2 separate regions of the Homo sapiens genome follow, and region 1 is linked to region 2. Evidence: fine-mapped expression QTL. A gene starts in region 2. The other region holds a variant in brackets. All regions are shown on one strand. Distances are between the middles of the regions.

Region 1 (8,302 bases), 37 kb after region 2:
TGGGTGAACACTGTAGCCCCCGCAGCTCCCCTGGAGCCCAGGCCCATGCCCGCCGTTACCTGGCCCCTTGCCCGAGGCCTCCAGCTTGCGGAGCTTGGAGATCTCGTCCTCGGTGATGGTGGTCATGTCCCGCCAGAAGTCGGCGTTCTTGCCCTGCTCCAGCTCCATGTAGACCTGGGGGCAGGGGGCAGGGGTCAGGACACGGGTGTGGCTGGGGTGGGGGTGAGGGTGCAGGTCAGAGGAGCATCGGGTGGGGCTGGGTACCTGGATATCCTCCAGCAGGTCCTCCATGTCGGCCACGGTGAGGCCGTTGAGGAACGTGTAGGGCTCATGCATCTCCACGGCCAGATCGTCATCCTCAGCGCTGATGTACTTGGCCAGCAGGTCGATGGGCTTGGCCCGCCCGTCCCGGATGCGGATCTTGGAACTGTGGGGAGCAGGGGAAGGTGGCATCAGAGCCTGGGCTGTGCCCTCCATGCTAAAGACCCTGCCCTTGGGGTGACCACACCAGTGGGAGCCGAGGAGGGGCCTGACCCGTTGGGGGTGGTCAGGGAAGGCTTCCTGGAGGAGGAGGAGGAGGAGGCATAAGGTAGAGTGAGCCGGGTCAGCCAAAGGGCGCAGGCCAGCAGTGCAGACAAAGTGCAAGCAGCGTGGACCCGGAGGTGGGCCAGGTGGGAGGGGCTTCCTGGAGGGCCTCTGGGATGTGCCCAGGATGGCGGCTTCTATGTGGGCTGTGATGGGGAAGAGTGGAGGAGCTGAAGCAGAGGCAGGCTGGGGGACCAGAGTAGTCACTGCCTTGCAACCACCTCCTCCCCCAGGCAGACCACTCGGGGCAGAGAGCCGGGTTTCTGTTCTGGGCCTGCAGGGGGGTACGCGTTGCAGGCGGGCCCTGGTCCAACCCAAGGGAACCCGTCACCAGGGAGGCCCGAGCTGGGAGGAGCCTGATGTCACCCGCCACGGGGCCCAAGGCAAGCAGGGACACCCCGGAGCCTCAGCTTGTCTGTAAACCAGGCGGATGGGGGTGCCACCCTCCTGGGTGGAGTGTGGGAGGGACAACTGCAGTCAGTGCAGGACTGGCGTCCAGCATGCGTGGGGTGCCGTTCACCTGGGCCCGTCTCCTCTGCACCCTGCCCAGCAGGGGAGGGCAGGAGACAGAAGCCTTGCCGCCCGGGAAGGGGTCAGGAAGGGAAGGTCCCAGGAAGTGCCGTGTGGGACCCTGAAGGGTGGGAGAGCAGTGGCTTCCAGAGTGACAGCCAGTGCCCGGCCCTGGCTCCAAGTCTGGGTCGGAGGGAGGGGGAGGCCCCAGCGCACCGCAGCTTGGCCTGCTGGAGGTGGAAGTTGTCCTCCTGCTCCTCCCATGTCTTGAAGTGCTCTGCCTCCTTCTCGCGCTGCAGCATCTCCAGCTCCTGCTCGCGCATGGCCTTCTCCCGCTCCCGCTCCAGCCGCAGCTGCTTCACCTGCAGGCACAGGAGGCTGAGGGCAGCGGGGACCGTGCGGTCTGCAGGGCTGCGGGGGGAGGGGCTGTGATGATGGGGGCCCAGCCTTCACCCAGCTGCCCTGGGCACAGGGATTGGTCCGGAGATGCCTGGGCTGGTGGACAGACCTTGGGAAGGGAGAGGGCCCTCCTGCCCGAGACTCAGCAGCTCAGATCAGCTGGGGCCCTCTCGGCCACCCTGAAGGGAGCATGTGGGAGTGAAGGCCCGAGGCCAGCAGAGCCGAGAGGTGGAGGGAAACAGTTTCCTGGGGCCATGGTCTGAGCCCCTGGATCCAGCCTTACCTGAAGCCAGCCCCCAGGACTTCCCACTTAAGCCCCTCAAGTCCTGCCAAAGGGGGCGGGCCTCCAGGCCCTGGAAAGGGAGGGCCCTGCCCAGTGGGCTGGCAGGGTGCCTACCTTCTGCAGCTCCAGCCGGTTGTCCTCCTGGATCCTCTTGTTCCGCTCCTTCAGCTCCTTCTCCTCCAGGTGGCTGATCCCCTTCTTCTCCAGGGCCTGGAAGCACCAGGCACACCTGCCCTGAGCACAGACCCGCCCCCTCGCCCCCCTCCTCAGCTCCTTCGTCCAAGAGATTGACCAGGGCCCTTGTTTTGCAGAGAGAGGTGACCTGCCAGCACTGCACGTCTTCCACCCCCTCCTTAACACTCCTGAAACCCAGTGCATCCAATTCAGTGCAGACATGGAGCCCCCACTGGGAGTGAGATGTATGCAAAGGGTAAGAAGGGGCTACCCCAACTCTCAACAGGAGGGCCTCACTCGGGGCCGCCCCAACTCCCAACAGGAGGGCCTTGCTCGGGGCCACCCCAGCCCCCAACAGAAGAGCCTTGCTCGGGGCCTGCTGACTCGCTTTACCCGGGAGTCTGAGTGCTTCGGACGTGAAGGCCACGCCCTCAGCAAGTCAGGGTCCCCCACTGCACGTGGGACAGGGCAGGAACAGTGAGTGGGGGCAGCAGCAGCTCTGAAAGCAAACCTGTGGGGTCATGGGGCCCCGCCCACACAGCGGGGCACAGGGGTGGCCACTGATGGGCTTGTCCCAGCCTGGAGACCCTCAAAGCTGGCTTCTTCCAGCAGCTGTCTGAGAGCCTGGCGCGGAGCCCCCACTTCCCGACCACCTTCCTCAGGCTCCCGGTGCCCCGTCGCCATGAGGGGGTTCCAGGAACCCCTGCCGCCCAGAACTTGCCTCCAGGGACACAGGCTGCCTGGCTGGGGACCACCCCCAGACACCCGGGCCACTCTGTGGTCTATCCAACCCAGCCTGGGGCCGCTTCCACAGGCGTCAACGATGACCACATCTTCCTCCTCCATGGCTGCCCGCCCAGAGCTCACGGTGGTGCCCAGCACACCGCAGGTGCACAGCACATGGTGGCGATGAAGTGCCAGGCAGCAGTGTGTGCCTCAATAAAGAACTCTGGGGGGTCTGGGGAGCAAGGGGCCAGGAAGGGGTCTCTCAAGAGGGGATGTGTCAGTTGAGGCCTGACGGAAGAGAACAGCCGGGGAAGGGGCAGAGCATGTCCAGGCAGGGGCGCGGCAGTGTGAGGGCCCCGAGGCGGAAGGAGCTCGTTGTGTTCTCAGACGACATCGGGCAGAAGCCACCTGGAGACCCCACAGCTCCCAACTGCGCAACCGGCGAGCAGGTGCAGTCGGCCCAGCCCACACGTTGCCTGCTCCACCCCCTCCACAAGTGGATGCTGCTTCAGATGAGCTGTGTCCCCCACAGGCACATCCCCGTCTGAACCCCTGCAGCTGTAATCATGACCCCATGTGAAATGAGGTCTTGGCCAGGTATGGTGGCTGACACCTGTAATCCCAGCATATTGGGAGGCCAAGGCGGGCAGATCACTTGAGGTCAGGAGTTCGAGACCAGCCTGACCAACATGGTTAAACTCTGTCTACTAAAAATACAAAAATTAGCTGAGTGTGGTGGCACCCGCCTGTAATTCCAGCTACTTGGGAGGCTGGGGCAGGGGAATCACTTGAACCCAGGAAGCGGAGGTTGCAGTGAGCCGAGATTGCGCCTTTGCATTCTAGTCTGGGCAACAGAGTGAGACTCCATCTCAAAAAAAAAAAAAAAAAAAAAGTGATGAGGTCTTGCAGACGTAGGTAAGATGAGGTCATCCTGGAGGTGGCGGGCCCTCATCCAATGCCTGGTGTCCTCATGGGAAGAGGAACATTTACACACAGACACACAGAGCAGAAGGCCGTATGGAGACAGAGACGGGAAGGCAGACC[G/A]CCACACAACACAGGAACAGGCCGGGTTCTGCGGCTGCAAGCCAGGGAGGGCCCAGGAATCACCGGCCATGACTGGAGCTGGGAGAGGCAGGAGGGGCCTCCCCTCGGCCCCCAGAGGGAGTGGGGTCCTGCCCACACCTGCCCACGCCTTGATTTTGGACTTCTGGACTCCAGAACGAAGAGATGATAAGTTCTGTTGTCTTATGCCACTGGTGTGACTGGTGGCTAAATGGCAGGCGCAGAACGAAAGAACCAGCTCAGACGACAGAGCGCCTGGAACTGTGGAACCCTGTCCTGGGTACATGATGCCAAGAGCTGGCTCTCTAGATAGGTTTCAGGTTGGGCTGGTGTTCGGGGCAAAGAATGGCTGAAGCTTACACCGCAAGAGACACAGTTAATGGCAAGAAAATGACGGTGGGCTGGGCGCAGTGGCTCATGCCTGTAATCCCAGAACTCTGGGAGGCCGAGGTGGGAAAATCACTTGAGCTTAGGAGTTCGAGACCAGCCTGGCCAACATAGTGAGACTCCATCTTTACAAAAAAATAAAAAATTAGCCGGGCATGGTGGTGGTGCCTGTAGTCCCAGCAAGTCAAAACGCTGAGGTAGGAGGATCGCTTGAGGCCAGGAGGTCAAGGCTGCAGTTAGCCACGATCACGCCACTGCACTCCAGCCTGGGTGACAGAGCGAGACCCTGAGTCAAAAAAGAAAGCTGGCCGGGCGTGGTGGCTCACGCCTGTAATCCCAGCACTTTGGGAGGCCAAGGCGGGTGGATCACAAGGTCAGGAGATCGAGACCATCCTGGCTAACATGGTGAAACCCTGTCTCTACTAAAAATACAAAAAATTAGCCGGGCGTGGTAGCGGGCGCCTGTAGCCCCAGCTACTCAGGAGGCTGAGGCAGGAGAATGGCATGAACCCGGGAGGTGGAGCTTGCAGTGAGCCGAGATCACACCACTTCACTCCAGCCTGGGCGACAGAGCGAGACCCTGTGTCAAAAAAGAAAGCTGATAGCGGCAGAAGCTTGCTTATGCGTGTGTGTGTAAAACCAACTCTTGCACGATCAAGGGCAGGCTGGGAGTGTCTCAAGTGTTGGGGTCTCCAGAAACAGTGGAAATGCTACAGGGACAGAGGCCACCACCCGGCGGGGCCCACCTTATTCCAGATGAAGGTGCCCAGCAGGTTGTTGTCTCCGAAGGGGTTGTCGGTGTTGGTGTAGCCCATGTACTCCTCACCCCAGCCCATCTTCTCCCGCTTCTTGCGCTCCTTGGCCTCCTTCTTGGCCAGCCGCCGTGCGCGCTTCTCCTCGGGCGTCTCGAAGGCCTTCATCAGCTCCTCCTGCTGCTTCCGCTCCTCCCGCAGCCGCAGCCGCTCCTGCAGGCTCTGCTGCTGGCTCAGGGCAGCCGCGGCCGCCCGGGGGCTCTGGGATCGCCCTGGAGACGCGGAGCTGGATGCTGAGGAGCTAGGAGACCACGAGCGTGCGCGCCGTCGCCGGCGAGCCCACTGGCCCCGTGACTGCTCCTCTCCTGAGTCCGACTGAGAGGACCCATCTCTTGAGTGCCACTTGGGCCGCGGGGGGCTCCGGCTTCGCATCCCTGAGCGCTGCCACCGCTCTTCCTCTGAATCTGACCTGCGGAGAGGACCATGGATGCCTGCTCAGTGCCTGCAGCTGTCATCTGCTCCACAGATGCTTACTGGGTGCCCGTGGGGGAGCAGGCACTGTTCTAGGTTCTGGGGACACAGCAGTGACCCAAATACCGATGGCTTCTGCCTTCCTGGGCTCACCCTCTGGTGGGCCCCAACAAGGAAGACATCAACAAATAAACACACCACGCAACACTAGGCAGAGGCAGAAGCCACAAAGAGTAGCAATGCCGAGCACAGGGGCTGGGGCTGCAGGGCCGAGGTCAGAGAGGGGCTCTCTCAGGAGCTGACACTGAGCCAAGGTCTGGAGGGAGTGGGGAGGCAGCGATGGGTGGATTCGGAGGGAGAGTGCTCGAGGCAGAGCAAGAGCGAGGGCCTAGAGGCAGGCACTGACCTGCCACATTCTAAGAACAACAAGGAGGCTGTATGGCTGAGACAGAGTGTGGGGGAGAGGGAGGAGGCGCGGGCAGGGAGGTGGCTGGGGCTGGTGGCGCAGGAATTATAAGGGTACGAACCAGGGGACCCGAACACATTTAGGCTGTCAAGGGAGGGCTTCCTAGATGGAAGTGGTATTTGAACTAGTCCCACAGGATGGACAGGAGTTAACAGAGTAGAGCGCAGGGAATGGAAGATGCACAACCTCAGGGGTGGTTCAGGGGCCTTTAATTTTATTTATTAGAGACAAGGTCTACTAGACACAGAGTCTACTAGAGACAAGGTCTATATTTTTATTTATTAGAGACAGAGTCTCCCTCTGTCACACAGGCTGGAGTGCATGATCAGAGCTCACTGCAGCCTTGACCTCCTGGGCTCAAGCCATCCTCTCGCCTCAGCCTCCTGAGTAGCGGGGACTACAGGCACACACCACCACGCCCAGGTAACTCTTTACATTTTTTTGTACAGAGGGGTCTTGCTATGTTGCCCAGGCTGGTCTTGAACTCCTGGGCTCAGGCAAGCCTCCTGTCTCAGCCTCCCAAAGTGTTGGGATTACAGATGTGAGCCACTGCGCTCAGTCACGTTTAGGGGTCTTTGTACACAGAGAACTGCCAAATATTTTGTTAAATGCTCTACCCATTAAGCTCATGTCAAAAAAATCTAAACTATGTTGAAACCAATCATTGCAGAGCCCTTAAATATTGGCCACAAGTTCAACTGAATTTTCGTGAACATTAATTCTAATTACATATCTAGAGTGGCAAATTATTGTGAATAATTCCAATACCAGAAAATGGTAGGCGAAAAAACACAAAGATGACATTAACAAGACTTATGGGCAGGCGCGGTGGCTCACGCCTGTAATCCCAGCACTTTGGGAGGCCGAGGCGGGCAGATCACTTGAGGCCAGGAGTTCAAGACCTGCCTGGCCAATATGGAGAAATCCCAGCTCTACGAAAAAATTCAAAAATTAGCTGGGTGTGGCAACAAGCACCTGTAACCCCAGCTACCGGGGAGGCTGAGGCTGAAGAATCGCTTGAACCCAGGAGGCAGAGGTAACAGCCGAGATCGTGCCACTGCACCCCAGCCTGGGCGACAGAGCAAGACTCCGTCTCAAAAACAAACAAACAAAAAAACCAACAACCGATGAGTGAACTTGGCCCAGAGCGGGGCAAGACTGGCCTGAGTGTCAGCCACGAAGGGGCTGAGCCAGCACTGGGGCCCCGGTCTGGGAATCAGTCCCTGTCCCCATTTTGGTTTCTCTGTACTGGAGCCGGCTCAAGGCAAATCCGACCAAGTGCCCCATCTCCAGAAGAAAAGGACCATGGGGAAGCTGAGATTCAGGCACTAGGAATCAGCTGTGAGTCCTGCCAGCTGACACCGAGTCTTTTTCCCTCCCACAGCCCACCTCCATTAGCAAATGTTGTCTCCTCTACTTCCAGAATCCCTCTGAAATCTACGCACTTTGCCCGCTGTGGTTGACTACAGCCTCCCTCCCATCGAGACTGCCATCATCTACTGTCTGGACAATTGTGCCGTCCTACTCTGATGCCGCTCCTGCCTACCCCGCTCCATCCCTTCTCCACCTCAAAGCCAGAAAGTATGCAGAGTTAAGTCAGTCCACGTCACTCCCCTACCCAAACTCCTCTCAAGACTCTCCATTTCCCTCCGACTAATAGCCAAGATCTAATGTGCTGAGCACACAGGGCTCGATATGATATGATCTGATCTCTCGTTACCTCCCCGCCGCCTCGCTCACCCGGCTCCGGGCTGTCCCTCCAACCGCCCGGTCCCCTGCCTGGAACGCCTCTCGCCTTCCTTCCGCTGCCAGGTTAATTCCAACCGGTGGTCAATTGTCCCCTTCTCTAGGAAGCCCTCCCCGAGTAAGTCGGGGGTTTCCCGGTTCCCCGGGATCTCCAACCCTCGGTCGGGCGCTCCTGAGGTAGGAGCCGGATCCCCAGCGCTGCTCCCGCAGCGACCCCACCTGCGCTCCCGGCTCCGCCGCCTCCGTCTGCGCCGTCCCTCGTCCTCCCGGCGCCGTCGGTTTCGCCGCCCATGGCTCCTGCTCCGACTTCGGCTCCCGCTCTGACTCTGCCGCCTTCGGCCCCGGCGACCCGCGGACCGCGAGCGCGAGCGTGTGTCCCGACCCATCGGCTGGGCCAGTGGCCGCGGCACCAACACCAATAGCCGAAGCCTGCGCTGGGGGCCTTCCTCGCCCACGGCGCTCTCCAGGCTGCCCCGTTTGCGCCTGAGCCGGGAAAGAGCAACCCATCCCGTCGCCCCAGCCCGCAAGGACTCCGACACCCCAGACTTTCCACTACGTCTGCAAATGTGGACCGCGTGATTGACTCCAGTGGGATTGTTGCCTCCAGGGTGGCGGAGTCTCCTTTCAGGCAGTGCTGGAGGCAGCCCTAGGCGGGTCCCCACGCCTCAGGGGGCCTGAGAAACTGTGGGCGGGGCAAGGGCAAACTAGGAACCTTGTGCAGGGAGGGGCCTGCCGAGGCGA
Region 2 (8,313 bases):
TACAGGCGTGAGCCACCGTGCCCGACAGCTTTTTTTTTTTTTTTGAGACAGGGTCCCACTATGTTACCTAGGCTGGAGTGCAGTGTCGCAATCATAGCTCACTGCAGCCTCGACCTCCTGGGCTCAGGTGATCCTCCCACCTGGTTCTCGTGAGTAGCTGGGACCACAGGTGCCTGCCATCACTCCTGCCTAATTATTTATTTAATTTATTTATTTATTTATTTTTCTGTGAGACAGAGTCTCGCTCTATTGCCTAGGCTGGAGTGCAATGGCTGGATCTCAGGTCACTGCAACCTCCACCTCCCGGGTTGAAGCGATTCTCCCACGTAGCTGGGATTACAGGCACTCACCATCAAGCCTGGCTAATTTTTGTATTTTGAGTAGAGATGGGGCTTCACCATGTTGCCCAGGCTGATCTCAAACTCCTGACCTCAAGTGATCAACCCACCTCAGCCTCCCAAAGTGCTGGAATTACAGGCATGAGCCACCATACCCAGTCAATTTATTGGTATTTGTGAGATGGGGTCTCACTATGTTGCCCAGACTGGTCTTGAACTACCGGGTTCAAGCGATCCATCTGGGCCAGCCTCTCAAAACGCTAGGATTACAGGCATAAGCCACTGCACCCAGCTGTTTCTTTGTGGTTGAGACAGGATCTTGCTCTGTCACCCAGGCTGAAGTGCAGAGATGCCATCACAGCTCACTGCAGCCTATACCTCCTGGGTTCAAGCAATCTTCCCATCTCAGCTTCCCAAGTAGCTGGGACTACAGGTGTGTGCCACCACACCCCGCTAATTTTGTATTTTTTGTAGAGATGGGGTCTCACCTTATTCCTCAGGCTGGTCTCAAACTCCTGGGCTCAAGTGATCCTCCCGCCTCGGCCTCCCAAAGTGCTGGGATCACAGTCAAGAGCCACCTCACCACACCCAGTTTTTGGTGCTTTGTTACAGCCATCATGGGCGAGTCAGACAACCTGATACTGCCAACCCCCCTCACTCCCCACCCCAGTTTCACCCTGTCCTGGCACAGGTACCACCACCTTAAATTTAGAGTTTCTCATTTCTAGGCAGGCCTGGAAAATAGCATTTTGCAGCAGTTTTTTATTAAAAAAAATTTCAGTATACAATTCAGTAGGTTTTGGTACATTCAAAAAGCTGTGTGGGCTGGGCACAGTGGCTCACGCCTGTAATTCCAGCAGTTTGGGAGACCGAGGCAGGCAGATCACTTGAGACCAAGAGTTCCAGACCAGCCTGGCCAACATAGTGAAACCCGGTCTCTACTAAAAATACAAAAATAGCCAGGGATGGTGGTGCATGCCTGTAATTCCAGCTACTTGGGAGACTGAGGCAGGTGAATCCCTCTCTCTCTCTCTTTTTTTTTTTTTGAGGCGGAGTCACGCTCTTGTCTGTCCCAGGCTGGAGTGCAGTGGCGCGATCTTGGCTCACTGCAACCTCCGCCTCCCGGGTTCAAGTGATTCTCCTGTCTCAGCCTTCCAAGTAGCTGGGATTACAGGCACATGACACCATACTCAGCTAATTTAATTTTTGTATTTTTAGTAGAGATGGGGTTTCATCATGTTGGCCAGGATGGTCTTGATCTCTTGACCTTGTGATCTGCCTTCCTTGGCCTCCCCAAGTGCTGGGATTACAGGGGTGAGCCACCAGACCTGGCCTTTTTTTTTTTTTTTTTTTTTTGAGACAGTCTCACTCTGTTGTCCAGGCTGGAGTGCAGTGGCATGATCTTGGCTCACTGCAACCTCCGCCTCCCAGGTTGGAGCAATTCTGCCTCAGCCTCCCGAGTAACTGGGACTACAGGTGTGCGCCACCACACCTGGCTAATTTTTGTGTTTTTAGTAGAGATGGGGTTTCACTGCGTTGTCCAGGCTGGTCTCGAACTCCTGACCTCAAGCAATCCGCCTGCCTCAGCCTCCCAAAGTGCTGGATTACAGGCATGAGCCACCGTGCCCGGCCTTACATAAAATTTCTTACCTCGTCCAAACCCTCCTGCCACTTTCTTTTCTCTCCCCATGTTCAGTTTGTGAGGCTCCTCCTGGGCGGAGGCTGTGACTGGCTCTGCTGTAGGGCCCGCCACTGCAGGCAGGATGGCTGTTTATTGAGCCGACATTCCTGGGTAGGAATCTGATGGATACGTAGGTGTTTCTGACATTGCACTCCAGCGGATTTTTACCAACGCCTCCTGGTGCCTGGGGTCTCCTCCTTCATCTGTGACCTGGACATCCGTTCATTCCTCACCAAAGATCACTGGGCACCTGCTGTATGCCAGGCACTGTGCCCTGGACACTGGGCATGGGGACAGAGCAGGGGAACAGCCCCCACCCTCCTGGAGCTGACATTCCTCCAGTCCTGGGGACAAACAGGACAAAAGATGAAATGAAATATCAGCAGGGGGCTGGGGCTCAAGCCTGTAATCCCAACATTTTGGGAGGCTGAGGCGGGAGGATTCCTTGAGGTCAGGAGTTCGAGACCATCCTGGCCAACATGGTGAAACCCCCGTCTCTACTAAAAATACAAAAAAAATTAGCTGGGCATGGTGGCAGGTGCCTGTAATCCCAACTAATCAGGAGGCTGAGGCAGAAGAATCGCTTGAACCCGGGAGGCAGAGGTTGCAGTGAGCCGAGATCGTGCCACTGCACTCCAGCCTTGGCAAGAGAGAGAGACTCCGTCTCAAAAAATAAAATAAAATAAAATATCTGATATGTCAGATGGTAGCTTTAAATGCTGAAGAGAAGCTGGGCACAGTGGCTCACATCTGTAATCCTAGCACTTTGGGAGGCCAAGGCTGAAGGATGGCCTGAACCTCCTGGTCTTGAGTTTGAGACCAGCCTGGGCAACACAGTGAGATCCCAACTGTACAAAAAATTAATCATGTTTCTAAATTAAATTTTAAAAAACTGAATGCGGCCGGGTGCGGTGGTTCACGCCTGTAATCCCAGCACTTTGGGAGGCCAAGGCAGGTGGATCACCTGAGGTCAGGGGTTCGAGACAAGCCTGACCAACATGGTGAAACCCTGTCTCTACTAAAAAATACAAAAATTAGCCAGGCATGGTGGTGTGCGCCTATAATCCCAGCTACTAGGGGGGCTGAGGCAGGAGAATCGCTTGAACCCAGGAGGTGGAGGTTGCAGTGAGCCGAGATCACGCCATTGCACTCCAGCCTGGGCGACAGAGCTAGACTCCGTCTCCAAAATCAAACAAACAAACCAAAGGCTGGGCGTGGTGGCTCATGCCTGTAATCCCAGCTTTTTTGGAGGCTAAGGTGGGTGGATTCCTGAGGTCAGGAGTTCAAGACCATCCTGGCCAACATGGTGAAACCTCATCTCTATTAAAAATACAAAAAAATTAGCCGGGCATGGTGGTATATGCCTGTAATCCCAGCTACTGGGGAGGCCGAGGCATGAGAATTGCTTGAACCTGGTGGGCAGAGGTTGCAGTGAGCTGAGATCGTGCCACTGAACTCCAAACTGGGTGACAGAGCGAGACTCCAGCTCAAAATAAATAAATAAATAAAAATAATAAAATAAAATAAAACAATGACCTCGCCTAGCAGAGGGTGAGTGCTCCAGCACCCTCAGCTGTCCCTGTCCTTTTTTTTTTTTTTTTTTTTTTTTTTGCGACGGAGTCTCGCTTTGTTGCCCAGGCTGGAGTGTAATGGCGCCATCTCAGCTCACTGCCACCTCCGCCTCCCGGGTTCAAGAGATCTCAGCCTCCCGAGTAGCTGGGATTACAGGCGCCCGCCACCACGTCCGGCTGATTTTTGTATTTTTGGTAGAGACGGGGTTTCACCATGTTGGCCAGGCTAGTCTTGAACTCCTGACCTCAGGTCATCTGCCCGCTTCGGCCTCCCAAAGTGCTGGAATTACAGACGTGAGCCACCGCTCCAGGCCTGTCCCTGTCCTTATTTGTGGTCCCTGTTCTTCCAGGGTCCTGAGCTCAGGCCCCCCCGGACTGCGGGTATCCCCGGGGAGGGCACAGCTGGCCCTGGCAGGGCCCGGACACCTGGGGCCCGACCCACCCCTGCGCACCCCGCGGTGTCGCCTTCCCGGGAGGCTCGGGTTCCCAGATCCCCTTACCCGGGCGTCTCGGCTGTCGCGCCCTGGGCCGGGGGAGGGGAGGCTGCAGGAAGCGGCGGATCCGGCGGCGGCGGCGAGGGCCCGGGTGGGTGGCCGAACTTCTCCCGCCATGGAGGGAGCAGCGGCCCGGGAGGCCCGGGGGACCGAGACCCCGCGCGCGTCTGCGCCCCCGCCCGCGCCCTCGGAGCCCCCGGCCGCGCCCCGCGCCCGCCCGCGCCTCGTCTTCCGCACGCAGCTGGCGCACGGGAGCCCCACGGGCAAGATCGAGGGCTTCACCAACGTCCGCGAGCTGTACGCCAAGATCGCCGAAGCCTTCGGGATCGCGCCCACCGAGGTAAGGAGCCCGGACACCGGCGCCCAAGACCACCCGCCTGATGGGGTGAGGGGTAGGGAGCTTGGACCCTGGACGGGAGACCCCAGATCCCCGGATCCCAGACGTCGGGGTGGCCGCCTAATCGCCGGATCTCAGAGACCCAGCCCTCAGATCCCGGGGTGCCACACTCCCAGGGGCCCCCTTTGCACGCTCTGCGCAAAAGATGGGCAGGTCTTAGGACTAGCGGACCCCTAGATATTCCAGAAAATCCTCTGCGCAGACCTAGCTTGGAGCGGACCCCAGCCCTCGGGGAAGCGCCTCTGTGCTTCCTGGGCGTAGCTGGGGTCTGGGGTTCCAGATGGCCCCCTTAGGGATGGGAAGTTTGAGGCCGCCGTGGGGTTGGGGGGTTCCTGGGCGTTTTTCCAATCCGGGTTCGTTTGGTTTGCAGCCCCCAGGGGGCGCCAGCAGATTAAACCTGGAGGTCTGGGGGCTGGAGGTCCCGGGGTATGGAGAGGGGTCTCCACCTGCTGGAAGTCTCCTTCTCCCTCCTCTCTCTGTTCTGGGGGTCCCACGCCCTGCCCTTTCCCATGGGCTGGGATCCTGGTCGCTGGGGGCAGGGGCCTGCGCAGACAGGGTGGCTGCGTGGGGGGATGCATGCCCTGGCTAACTCTAGGCTCCTTCTCCCCCGGGAAGATTTTATTCTGCACCCTCAACAGCCACAAAGTGGACATGCAGAAGCTCCTGGGGGGTCAGATAGGCCTGGAGGACTTCATCTTTGCCCACGTGCGAGGCGAGACCAAGGAGGTGGAGGTCACTAAGACAGAGGATGCTCTGGGGCTGACCATCACGGACAACGGGGCTGGCTACGCCTTCATCAAGGTGCCCGGGAGGGGGTGGGCGGGTGGCTTCCTGGGGTCCAGCAACTGCCCCCCCCACTCTGGGTCGACGTGGGTTCTGCGGATTGGAGGCGGGTGGCTGGGGTTGCCCTGCCAGCGACGCTGGATCCCTGCAGAGAATCAAGGAAGGCAGTATCATCAACCGGATCGAGGCAGTGTGCGTGGGTGACAGCATCGAAGCCATCAACGACCACTCCATTGTGGGCTGCCGCCACTACGAGGTGGCCAAGATGCTCCGGGAGCTGCCCAAGTCCCAGCCCTTCACCCTGCGCCTGGTGCAGCCCAAGAGGGCCTTCGGTGAGGCGGGTGGGCTGGCGGGAGCTCTTCCCGAAGTGCGTTCTACGGATGCCTGGGGTGGAGGAGGGTCGGGGATGGGACGGGCTGGAAGGTTCTAGGTGCACCCGCTGCGTGCCAAGGAGCTCCTGGCAGGGTATCAGAAACTCGTAGGTAGTTTCTATTAATAGATTGTTATGGAGTCAGCCTGTGGGGGAGGGGTGGGGGAGAGACTGGGTAAAGTGGAGTTGGAGGAGGACGCGTCCAGAACCACTTTGGAGCCAGGCTGGGAGACTTGTTTTTGTTTGTTTGTTTGTTTGTTTGTTTTTGAGACGGAGTCTCACTCTGTTGCCTGGGCTGGAGTGCAATGGCGCGATCTCAGCTCACTGCAATCTCCACCTCCCGGGTTCAAGCGATTCTCCTGCCTCAGCCTCCCGAGTAGCTGGGACTACAGGCACCCACCATTGCGCCTGGCTAATTTTTGTATTTTTAGTAGAGACGGGGTTTCACCATCTTGACCAGTCTGGTCTCGAACTTCTGACCTCAAGTGCTCCACCCGCCTCAGTCTCCCAAAATGCTAGGATTATAGGCGTGAGCCACCGCGCGCAGCCTGGGAACTTTTAAAGCAGTGCTTTGAGGTCATGGTGGATTGTAGAGAATGAGAATATGAGAAAAAAGTTTTCTTTCTTTTCTTTTTTTTTTCCTTTCTTTTTTCTTTTCTTTTCTTTTTTTTTTTTTGAGACGGAGTCTAGCTCTGTCGCCCAGACTGCAGTGCAGTGGCTAGATTTCAGCTCACTGCAAGCTCCGCCTCCCGGGTTCACACCATTCTCCTGCCTCAGCCTCCCGAGTAGCTGGGACTACAGGCGCCCGCCACCACACCCGGCTAATTTTTTGTATTTTAGTAGAGATGAGGTTTTACCGTGTTAGCCAGGACGGTCTCGATCTCCTGACCTCGTGATCCGCCCACCTCGGCCTCCCAAAGTGCTGCGATTACAGGTGTGAGCCACCGCGCCTGGCCGTGCCAGCTAATTTTTAATTTTTTTCTTTTTTTGAGACGGAGTTTTGCTCTTGTTGCCCAGGCTGGAGTGCAATGGTGTGATCTCGGCTCACCACAACCTCTGCCTCCCAGGTTCAAGTGATTCTCCTGCCTCAGCCTCCCAACTAGCTGGGATTACAGGCATGTGCCACCATGCCTGGCTAATTTTGTATTTTTAGTAGAGATGGGGTTTCTCCATGTTGGCAGGCTGGTCTCGAACTCCCGACCTCAGGTGATCTGCCCGCCTCGGCCTCCGAAAGTGCTGGAATTACAGGCATGAGCCACTGCACCCTGCCCATTTTTTTTCATAACTAGACTTTCTCAATGAAGAAAACAGTGTATTGATTTACACACTAGCACATTCTCCTCATGTAGCCATGGGTTGGCCCTTTGGATAGCGTTGTTCTATAGAACAGAGACAGAGATTCTAGAAGTGCCCCAGCACACATGGAGAGACGTCCCAGGGAGAGTGAGCTGTATGGGGTTCTAGAATCTGCCCTGCCGTGGCTGTGAACTCCAAAAGCCATGCCTAAAAATAGAGTTTAGGCCGGGCGTGGTGGCTCACACCTGTAATCCCAGCACTTTGAGAGGCCAAGGCAGGTGGATCACCTGAGGTCAGGTGATCCATCGTATCAAAAAAAAAAAAAAAAAAACCTGGCTGGGTGCAGTGGCTCAAGCCTGTAATCCCAGTACTTTGGAAGGCCAAGGCGGGTGCATCACGAGGTCAGGAGTTCGAGACCAGCCTGGCCAATATGGTGAAACCCTGTCTCTACTAAAAATACAAAAAATTAGCTGGGCATGGTGGCAGGTGCCTGTAATCCCAGCTACTCGAGAGGCTGAGGCAGGAGAATCGCTTGAACCTGGGAGGTGGAGGCTGCAGTAAGCCGAGATCGTGCCATTGCACTCTAGCCTGGGTGACAGAGCAAGACAACATCTCAAAAAAAAAAAAAAAAATCAAGCTTAGTCTGAGACTAAACCCAGCTCTAGAGCCCAGGCCAGCTCTCAGACCAAGCCCTGCTCTTAAGCCCAGGCCAGCTCTGAGACTAAGTGTGTTTCTAGCACCTCAGTCCTGACACTAAGCCGGGTTCTGGAACCCAGACAAGAACATATCTAGATTGAGGATCCTACCACAAGGAGGGTCCCAAGCAGTCCCTTCTAGAGAAAGTCGCTAGAAGAGGGAGAGTGAGGGCATGGAACTGGGATGTTAGTTCTAAACCTGCTCCATTACAACACCTCATTCTGGACTTGTGATTTAGTTTGCTGGGGATGCGAAGTGTGGAATCTCGAATAGGTCTCTGGAGACTTGCCGTACAGATGTAAGGAGGACTTTGAAGGGGAGGAAGATTCTAGAAAGGCTCGGCTGTTGGCCTCCCAGGGTTTACAAAGATGTGGCTCCACCCAGAACCCATGGCCATCCCTCACTCTGTTCCCTCCAGATATGATTGGCCAGAGAAGTCGGTCCAGCAAATGTCCAGTAGAGGCGAAAGTGACCAGCGGGAGGGAGACCCTGCGGCTTCGTTCTGGGGGGGCTGCCACAGTGGAGGAAGCGGTGAGTGAAGGGGAGGGGCTCTCCCCAGGCTTCTGCACCTTCAGCTCCTCCACTGAGTCAGTGCGGTCTTGGGTAAGAACTTCTCCTCGGAGCCTCAGTTTCTCTGCCTGCAAAATGGGTCCTCATTGAAAAGTGGGGCAATGATGTTGGTACCAG

What was found. PIP is the estimated chance that this variant, and not a neighbour inherited with it, causes the effect.
Region 1: its variant is fine-mapped to the expression of GIPC3 in whole blood (TOPMed, PIP 0.98).

The regions. Positions count from the first base shown.
Region 1 is chr19:3,618,816-3,627,117 of GRCh38, forward strand. CACTIN (cactin, spliceosome C complex subunit) reads right to left here and starts at 7,975. Exons shown (of 10, transcript NM_001080543.2): 1 at 7,781-7,975; 2 at 4,873-5,347; 3 at 1,892-1,987; 4 at 1,312-1,457; 5 at 265-427; 6 at 60-174. The coding sequence starts at 7,947. RefSeq lists enhancers at 5,136-5,637, 5,638-6,137, 6,364-6,925, 6,926-7,487, 7,488-8,049 and 2 more. The variant G/A (reference allele first, on the strand shown) is at 3,722.
Region 2 is chr19:3,581,399-3,589,711 of GRCh38, forward strand. GIPC3 (GIPC PDZ domain containing family member 3) reads left to right here and starts at 4,080. Exons shown (of 6, transcript NM_133261.3): 1 at 4,080-4,424; 2 at 5,097-5,282; 3 at 5,416-5,596; 4 at 8,045-8,157. The coding sequence starts at 4,200.